Homo sapiens: one gene and its partner. The protein of the gene in region 2 purifies or fractionates together with the protein of the main gene of each other region. This does not show direct contact. Each region holds a gene or a part of one and is shown on either strand. Other genes may lie near its edges.

Region 1 (3,819 bases), on a different chromosome or scaffold from region 2:
CCTCAAGTGATCCACCTGCCTTGGCCTTCCAAAGTGCTGGGATTACAGGCGTGAGCCACCATGCCCAGCCAATCCCTGTTTTCTTCAACTACCCACAGGGTTACTTCCTGCTCACAAGCAGGACTGTTTCTCACATGCCACCAATTGAGACAATCACCAGATCTTGCATTCGAGGAAGCCCTCCCTTACCTCTACACAGTAACCAAAGTTGTGGAATATTTTTGGCTACCTCAAGTGACTCGATGCCAGGAAAAGTTGAGTCAAAGGAATAGGACAAAAATTCACTTGGCACCAGCTAACGACACCTTCTCACCTCCCACTGACACAGCCTCTTACATCTTTCTCTTCCCCAACCATTTTGGCCTACCTTCTTGCCCTAACACTTCCCTAAGATGCTCATTTCACCCAGTCTTCCCCAGCACACAATGATGGCAGATAGGGTGGTGTGAGCCCCCATGTATCTATGGCACGTTTCAGCAGACAACGCTTCATGCTGACAGCTTAGCCTCACCACTCACTGAAATCACTTGGGTCTCTCCTGGTTTGTCCAGGTTCTCAAATACAGCCTCTTGTTTATCGGCTCGGACTTCAATGAGGTTTTTCTTGTAGTTAACAGTGAGGTTCCGCTCCTGGATGATCTCCTGCAGGGCATCTGCATACTTCTTAACCCCGAAAATGGCTCCAAGAGAAGTGTTGAAAATGATATTGGCCTTGGATCGCTTCCCTGTCTGAGAAAAATAAGAAAACCATTCACACCAAAGCATGACTGCAGCTGCCTTTTTTTTTTTTAATCCAGACAAGAATTAAAACCCTCAGCAGGGACCTTGCTAGCTTTTGCCACCATTATGTCCTGGCAGAGCAATGGGTAGACCAATCCACTGCCTCCTCCTTATGTTCTGCCCATGACATACAACTAAGTACACACTTGAGTTGGGGGCTGAGGTGGGCACTGTCCAGCTGAAGGCCAGAGGTGAAGGTTAGGTCCAGGTCAAGACAGAGTAGAGTAGAACGGAATGTTTATTCATATATTCATGTATTCATTTACTCAATAAATATTTAACAAAGTTCTAGAGTTGGCCAGATACTGTCCTAGGTGCTGAGGGAACAGCAGTGAGCAAAACTGAGTTCCAGCCAGGCGCAGTACCTCACACCTGTAATCCTAGCACTTTGGGAGGCCGAGGCAGGCAGATCACCTGACGTCAGGAGTTCCAGACCAGCCTGGCCAACATGGTTTGAGACAAGCCTGTCTCTACCAAAAATATAAAAATTAGCTGGGCATGGTGACAGGCGCCTGTAATCCCAGCTACTCAGGAGGCTGAGGCAGGAGAATGGCTTGAACCCAGGAAGCGGAGTTTGCAGGGAGCTGAGATTGCACCATTGCACTCCAGCCTGGGTGACAGAGCAAAATTCTGTCTCCAAAAAAAAAAAATAAACAAACTAAAAAACAGTAACAACAAAACCCTGAGTTCCTACCTTCTTGATATTGTTCAGAGAGGCCAATATTCTCCCAAATGCCTAAGATCAGAGAGGCCAATATTCTCCCAAATGCCTAAGATCTTATGGTACTCGAACCTTCCTCGTAGGCCATCTAAGACTTGGGAGAAAAGAGTTACACAAAGAAGTTTCCAGGACGGAAGAAACAGCTGGTTTCTTCTTCTTTCCTTTGCTCGGCTCCTTTCATGATTTGCTCACCCGGATCTCACCATTTGAAGAATTCAGGTGGGTAAGTGTCTCAAAAGGCTGTGCCAGCCCTTTATGACCCAGAATGAACTTTCTTGGGGTCAGAAATGATTACTGGAACTGCCTTTAATTCCCTACCTCACAGGGTTGTTGCAGTTTACAGAGCTCAGGGGAAGGTCTTGATCAGTCCCAGCCTCCATGAGCACATTCAACCACTCCCCAGCCCGTTCTTCCCCACCCTTCTTCCCATCTGTCCCCATACACGACTAGCTGCTAGAAATCCTGCCACTGTCTCAAGCCAAACCGCACTTTGGTAAACTAAATGTCAAACCCCAGGCAAGAGCAGGGAGGGCAAGAACAGCTTCCCTTACAAGCTTAAGCCAGGTGTACTTGAGCTGCAGACAACTGCTCTTACACAGAGAGCATTTGGAGAATGCTGAGAAAGTCTCCTCCTGCCCAAATATCTCTTTTCATGAAGGTTTAAAGTTCTATGAGAACATTTTTTTGCTTTTTAAATTGGCATTTTCCGTATCATATTTTTTTAATGTATACCCAAGGGACAGAAAATATTCATGACCTTAAACTTGAGTGGAAGTAGTGGATAGCATTATGGATAAAAATGAACAATCTGCAACTAATTGTCTAACTATATGGAAATATTTAAACAGTCTCTAACATATCTCTCCAGTAGACTTTTTTTTTTTTTTTAAGACGGAGCTTCGCTCTTGTTGCCCAGGCTGGAGTGCAATGGCACAATCTTGGCTCACCACAACCTCCGCCTCCCAGGTTCGAGCAATTCTCCTGTCTCAGCCTCCCCAGTAGCTGGAATTACAGGCATGCACCACCACGCCCAGCTAATTTTTTTTGTATTTTTAGTAGAGACGGGATTTCTCCATGTTGGTCAGGCTGGTCTTGAACTCCTAACCTCAGGTGATCCACCCACCTTGGCCTCCCAAAGTGCTGGGATTAGAGGCGAGAGCCACCACACCCAGCATCCAGTAGACTTTTACACACACATTTAAAAAGTATGTAACAAAGACTATTTAATATTACATAATACAGCTAAATTTTTCATGTACACTATGACTGTAACCATATTTAAGTATACAGAAAAAAAGCTGGAAAGCCATGTCAAATTGAAAACTGCAGCTTTATTAAAGCAATTGGATCATGAGTGATTTTCTCCTCTTTTATATTTTATAAACTTCCAGTTAACTAATTTTGTACACATGTAATAAAAATTCCGAGATAAAAAAGGGATTACAATAGAGATAAAATGGAATTCTTGCAATCAGTGAATTAGCACTGTCCGCCCTGCTCATCTCTGTCCCCAGAAAGGAAGCATACCTTCCTGAAGTAGGCTTCTGATAAGTACATGATCTTCTGAGGGGCTCCAGCACACTTCACTGGAGTATTTGGGAAGGTGAAGATGGCATTGCCCTCTTTGAAGTCCTGCAGAGCTTTCCATGTCTTCTCTACAGTCTTAACTGAATAATTCGACCCTATTTTGGGATGAGCGAAACCTTCAGGTAGGCCTTTAATCTGCAACAAAGTACACAAAAATTATTTTAAACAAAAGTGCAAATGTCTTTAGAGTCCTTGTTCTTTGCCATTTCTACAACCTTTCAAATATTTCAGTACTATCATTACCCTCCAATACCCACATGCCTAGAGCAGGCAGGTGGGTGAGGGTTCTAAGACCAGAGCTGTGGCACCTGTAGTCACCTGTCAAACTGCAGAATGGGCTCAGCTCAGAGGAACCCTTCAACTCCCTGGCCTTGAGAATACAATTTGAATACAACTTTTCCCACCATCGGAGTGAGGACAAGACGCCAGCCAGCCTTCCTTTTAGGAGACCCAGTTGCCTCACTGGAAAGAACAACTGGCAGGACCAAGAGCCATTTATATCATCAAGAATAGCAAACTTAAATCACTCTTTATCAGGTTGTACCAGACCAAACTCTAGATAAAGGCACTAAAGCCAGGTGCCTAAAAACATGGACTTTAGGATCCCACATACCAGTTTGAGTCCTGGCTCTTCCACTTACTAGCATTGTGACCCTGTGTAAATTACCTAATACTTCTAAGCCAGTAGGTCTCCAAGTGTGGTGCTCAGACCAGCAGCACAAGCACCACCTG
Region 2 (3,819 bases):
CTTACACACCCCTCACCACTCCACGCCTGACTCCAGTCTTTCTTGGAGGCATGGGATCCAGGCTGGTAGCGTGAGCTGAGTGTAGCCTACAAGGCCGAGTGGGTGGGAATGAGGCTAGCAGGTCTGAGCAAAACTCAGGCAGAGGTGCCACCAGCCACAGGTTTCTGGCCAGAAAAGTGACACCCTAAAGATCCCATAACAATATCTAATAAAGTATAAATTACATGCAATAAAATTTACTCTTTTAAGTGAACATTTCAGTGAGTTTTGACAAATACATACATTAGTGTAGCCACTACTGCAATCAAGATATAGATATAGGGCTGGCCGCTGTGGCTCATATCTATAATGGCAATGCTTTGGGAGGCTGAGGCTGGAGGATTGCTTTAGACCAGGAGTTTGAGACCAGCCTGTGCCACATGGTGAGCCCCATCTTTGAAAAAAAAAAATAGCCTGGCGTGGTGACACATGTCTGTAGTTCCAGCTACTTCGGATGCTAAGATGGGAGGACTGCTTGAACCTAGGAGTTCGAAGCTGCAGTGAGTCATGATCACTCTACTGTATTCCAGCCTGAGTGACAGATTGAGACTCTGTTTCTAAAAATAGGTAGATAGATAGATAGATAGGGAACATTTTCATGCTTCCAAAAAGTTCTCTCATGCCTCTTTGTAGTCAGTTCCCTTTCTAGCATCTGGCAGTCACTGATCTGTTTTCTGTCTGTATGTTTTTGTCTTTTCTAGAATGTCATATAAATAGTATACAGTTTTTTGTGTCTAACTTTTTTCACTTAGGATCATACAGTTGAGATTTATCTATGTTGAATTTATTGGCAGTTGTTCCTTTTTATTGCTTAGTATGATACGATTTATCCATTCACCAGTTGAAGGACACTTGAATTTCTAGTTTTGGGCTATGGTGAACATAATTGTTCTGAACATTTGCATACAGATCTTTGAATGTTTTCATGTTCATGTTTTTATTTCTCTTGGGTAAATACGTAGGAGAAGAATTGCTAGGTCATAAGTGTCTTATTTGTGTGAGACTGACAAACTTTTCTAATTGGCTGTGCCATTTTACATTTTCACTAGCAATGTATGAGAGTTTCAGTTATTCTTTTTAAATTTAATTTATTACTTAAAAATATTTTTGGTTGCTCTGCCTGTGGAGTAGCCATTTTTTGTTAACTTCTCTAATAAACTTGCCTTCACTAAAAAGACAAAAAAACAAAAAACAAAAACAGGCTGGGTGCCGTGGCTCACACTTATAATCTCACCACTTTGGGAGGCCAAGGTGGGTGGATCACGAGGTCAGGAGAACGAGACCATCCTGGCCAACATGGTGAAACCCCGTCTCTCCTAAAAATACAAAAATTAGCTGAGTGTGGTGGCGTGCACCTGTAATCCCAGCTACGTGGGAGGCTGAGGCAGGAGAATGGCTTGAACTCAGGAGGCAGAGATTGCAGTGAGCCGAGATCGCAGTGAGCCGAGATCGCACAACTGCACTACAGCCTGGCGACAGAGCAAGACTGTCTCAAAAAAAAAAAAACCAAAGAACAAAAACTTCCTCTAGCTTTATTGAGATATAATTTACAAATAAAAATCATATATATTTATGGTGGACAGCGTGATGTTTTATGTATACATTGTGAAATGATTACCACAGTCAAGGTAATTAACATATCCATCACTTCACATAGTTACCGTGTGTGTGTGTGTGTGTGTGTGTGTGTGCGTGTGCGTGTTTATGTGAAGAAATTTAAAATCTCTTTTGGCTGGGCGTGGTAGCTCACGCCTGTAATCCCATCACTATGGGAGGCTGAGGTGGGTGGATTGCTTGAGTCCAGGAGTTTGAGACCAGCCTGGGCAACAGGCTTTTTTCTCCAAAAAAAAGATCTACTCTCTTAACATACCTCATTTGTGGTTTTAATTTGCGTTTTCCTGGTGACTAATAATGCTGAACACCTTTTCGGGTGCTTGTTGCCATTTGTGTATTTTTTTGTAAAGTGTCTGATCAAATTTGTGCTCTTTTTTATTGGGTTGTTTGACTTCTTACTGTTATTGGTGGAGGGTGTCCAGGTTCTTGGTGTTTTGAAGAAAGAATTGGACAAAATGCACAAACAAAGCAATGACAGAAAATTACAGATTTATTGAAATGAAAGTACACTCCACAGGGTGGGAATGGGCTTGAGCAAGCAGCTTGAGAGTGCTGGTTACAGAATTTTCTGGGGTTTAAATACCCTCTAGAGGATTCCCATTGGTTATGCAGTGTATGCCTTATGTAAATGAAGAGGATGAAGTGAAGTTACAAAGTTATTTACTTGGTGTACACCCTATGCAAATAAAGAGGATGTTTCCTGACATAGCTGAAGGGAAATTACACAATTATTTACTTGGATGTAGAAAGTTGGGGTTTTTCTGTTTGATTTAGTTCTAGGAAGTCCTTAGGTTCCCTGCCACCAGGTCCTATTCTCCTGCCTCAGTATTATTGAGATTTTTTTTTTTTCTAATTCTAGAAAGTCTGTCCCTCCCTCCCTTTTTCCTCCCCTCTCCCCTCTCTTCCTTCTCTTGCCTTCCCTTCTCTTTTTCCTTTCCTTTCGTCTCACTCTGTTGACCAGGCAGGAAGGCAGTCGCACAATCACAGTTTACTGAAGCCTTGATCTCCCAGGCTCAGTTCATCTTCCCACCTCAGCCTGCCGAGTAGCTGGGACTACAGGTGCACGCCACCATGCCTGGCTAATTTTCTTATTTTTTGTAGAGATGGGGTTTCACCATGTTACCCAGGCTGGTGTTGAACTCCTGGCCTCAAGCAGTCCTTTTGCCTGAACTTCCCAAAGCACTGGGATTACAGCCGTGAGTCACCTCACTGGCCAAATGATACACTCTTTATTTTTGTTCCTAAAGTGTCTTTTCAATTAACAATACTTGCAGTTGAATTTTTAAATATTTATATTTTATAATTGGATTAAAAAAAAAAAACTCTTGTCAGCTGGGTGCAGTTGGCTCACACCTGTAATTGGGAGGCTGAGGTGGGTTATCACTTGTGCCCAGGAATTTGAGACCAGTCTAGGCAACATAGTGAGACCTTGTCTCTACTAAAAATTAAAAAAACATAAAAATGAATTAGCCAGGTGTGATGATGCATGCCTGTAGTCCCAGCTGCTTGGGAGGTTGAGGTGGGAGCATTACTTGAGCCCAGGAGGTCGAGGCTGCAGTGAGCTGTGTTTTTGCCATTGTACTCCAGCCTGGGTAACGGAACAAACTCCAGCCTGGGTAATGGAACAAGATCCCGTCTCAAAAACAAAAGCAAAAACCCCTTGTCTTTTGAAAAATTTCTTTTACAAACTGGAAAAAAGAGTTAATGCATGCTATTTGAATTATATAGAAAGAAGGGTGCCTGGTACATCATAGGTAGTTAAGGAAGATACATGGAATGAACACACAGTTGTTGAAAATATGGGGGAAAAAGCTATAAAAAAGGAGGGTGGGAGGTGGATGTGGTTATAAAAGGGTAATTGGGAGGAATTTTTGTGGTGATAAAATTGTTTTATATTTTGACTGGGTGGTGGATACATATATCTTCATGTGTGATAAAATTGCATAGAACTAAATACACACATACAACCACAAATGAGTATAGGTAAAACTGAGGAAATGTGAATGAGATTGGTGGATTGTATGATATCCTGGTGGTGATTTTGTAATTTAATTTTGCAAGACGTCACCAGTGGAGGGAACTGGGTAAAGGGTATATGGTTTCTGTATTAATTCTTACAATTGTGTGTAAATCTGCAACTATCTCAAAATTAAAAGTTTAATTTAA

What was found.
Region 1: the proteins of SBF2 (region 2) and SQOR purify together in Homo sapiens (affinity purification with mass spectrometry, with the first as the bait; one large-scale study listed by BioGRID). This does not show direct contact.

Annotation. Positions count from the first base shown.
Region 1 is NC_000015.10:45,673,010-45,676,828, reverse strand, and holds part of SQOR (sulfide:quinone oxidoreductase, mitochondrial), read right to left. Parts: intron 3,223-3,819; coding exon 3,028-3,222; intron 729-3,027; coding exon 519-728; intron 1-518. UniProt on the Homo sapiens protein: Catalyzes the oxidation of hydrogen sulfide with the help of a quinone, such as ubiquinone-10, giving rise to thiosulfate and ultimately to sulfane (molecular sulfur) atoms.
Region 2 is NC_000011.10:10,284,078-10,287,896, reverse strand, and holds part of SBF2 (myotubularin-related protein 13), read left to right. Parts: intron 1-3,819. UniProt on the Homo sapiens protein: Guanine nucleotide exchange factor (GEF) which activates RAB21 and possibly RAB28. Promotes the exchange of GDP to GTP, converting inactive GDP-bound Rab proteins into their active GTP-bound form.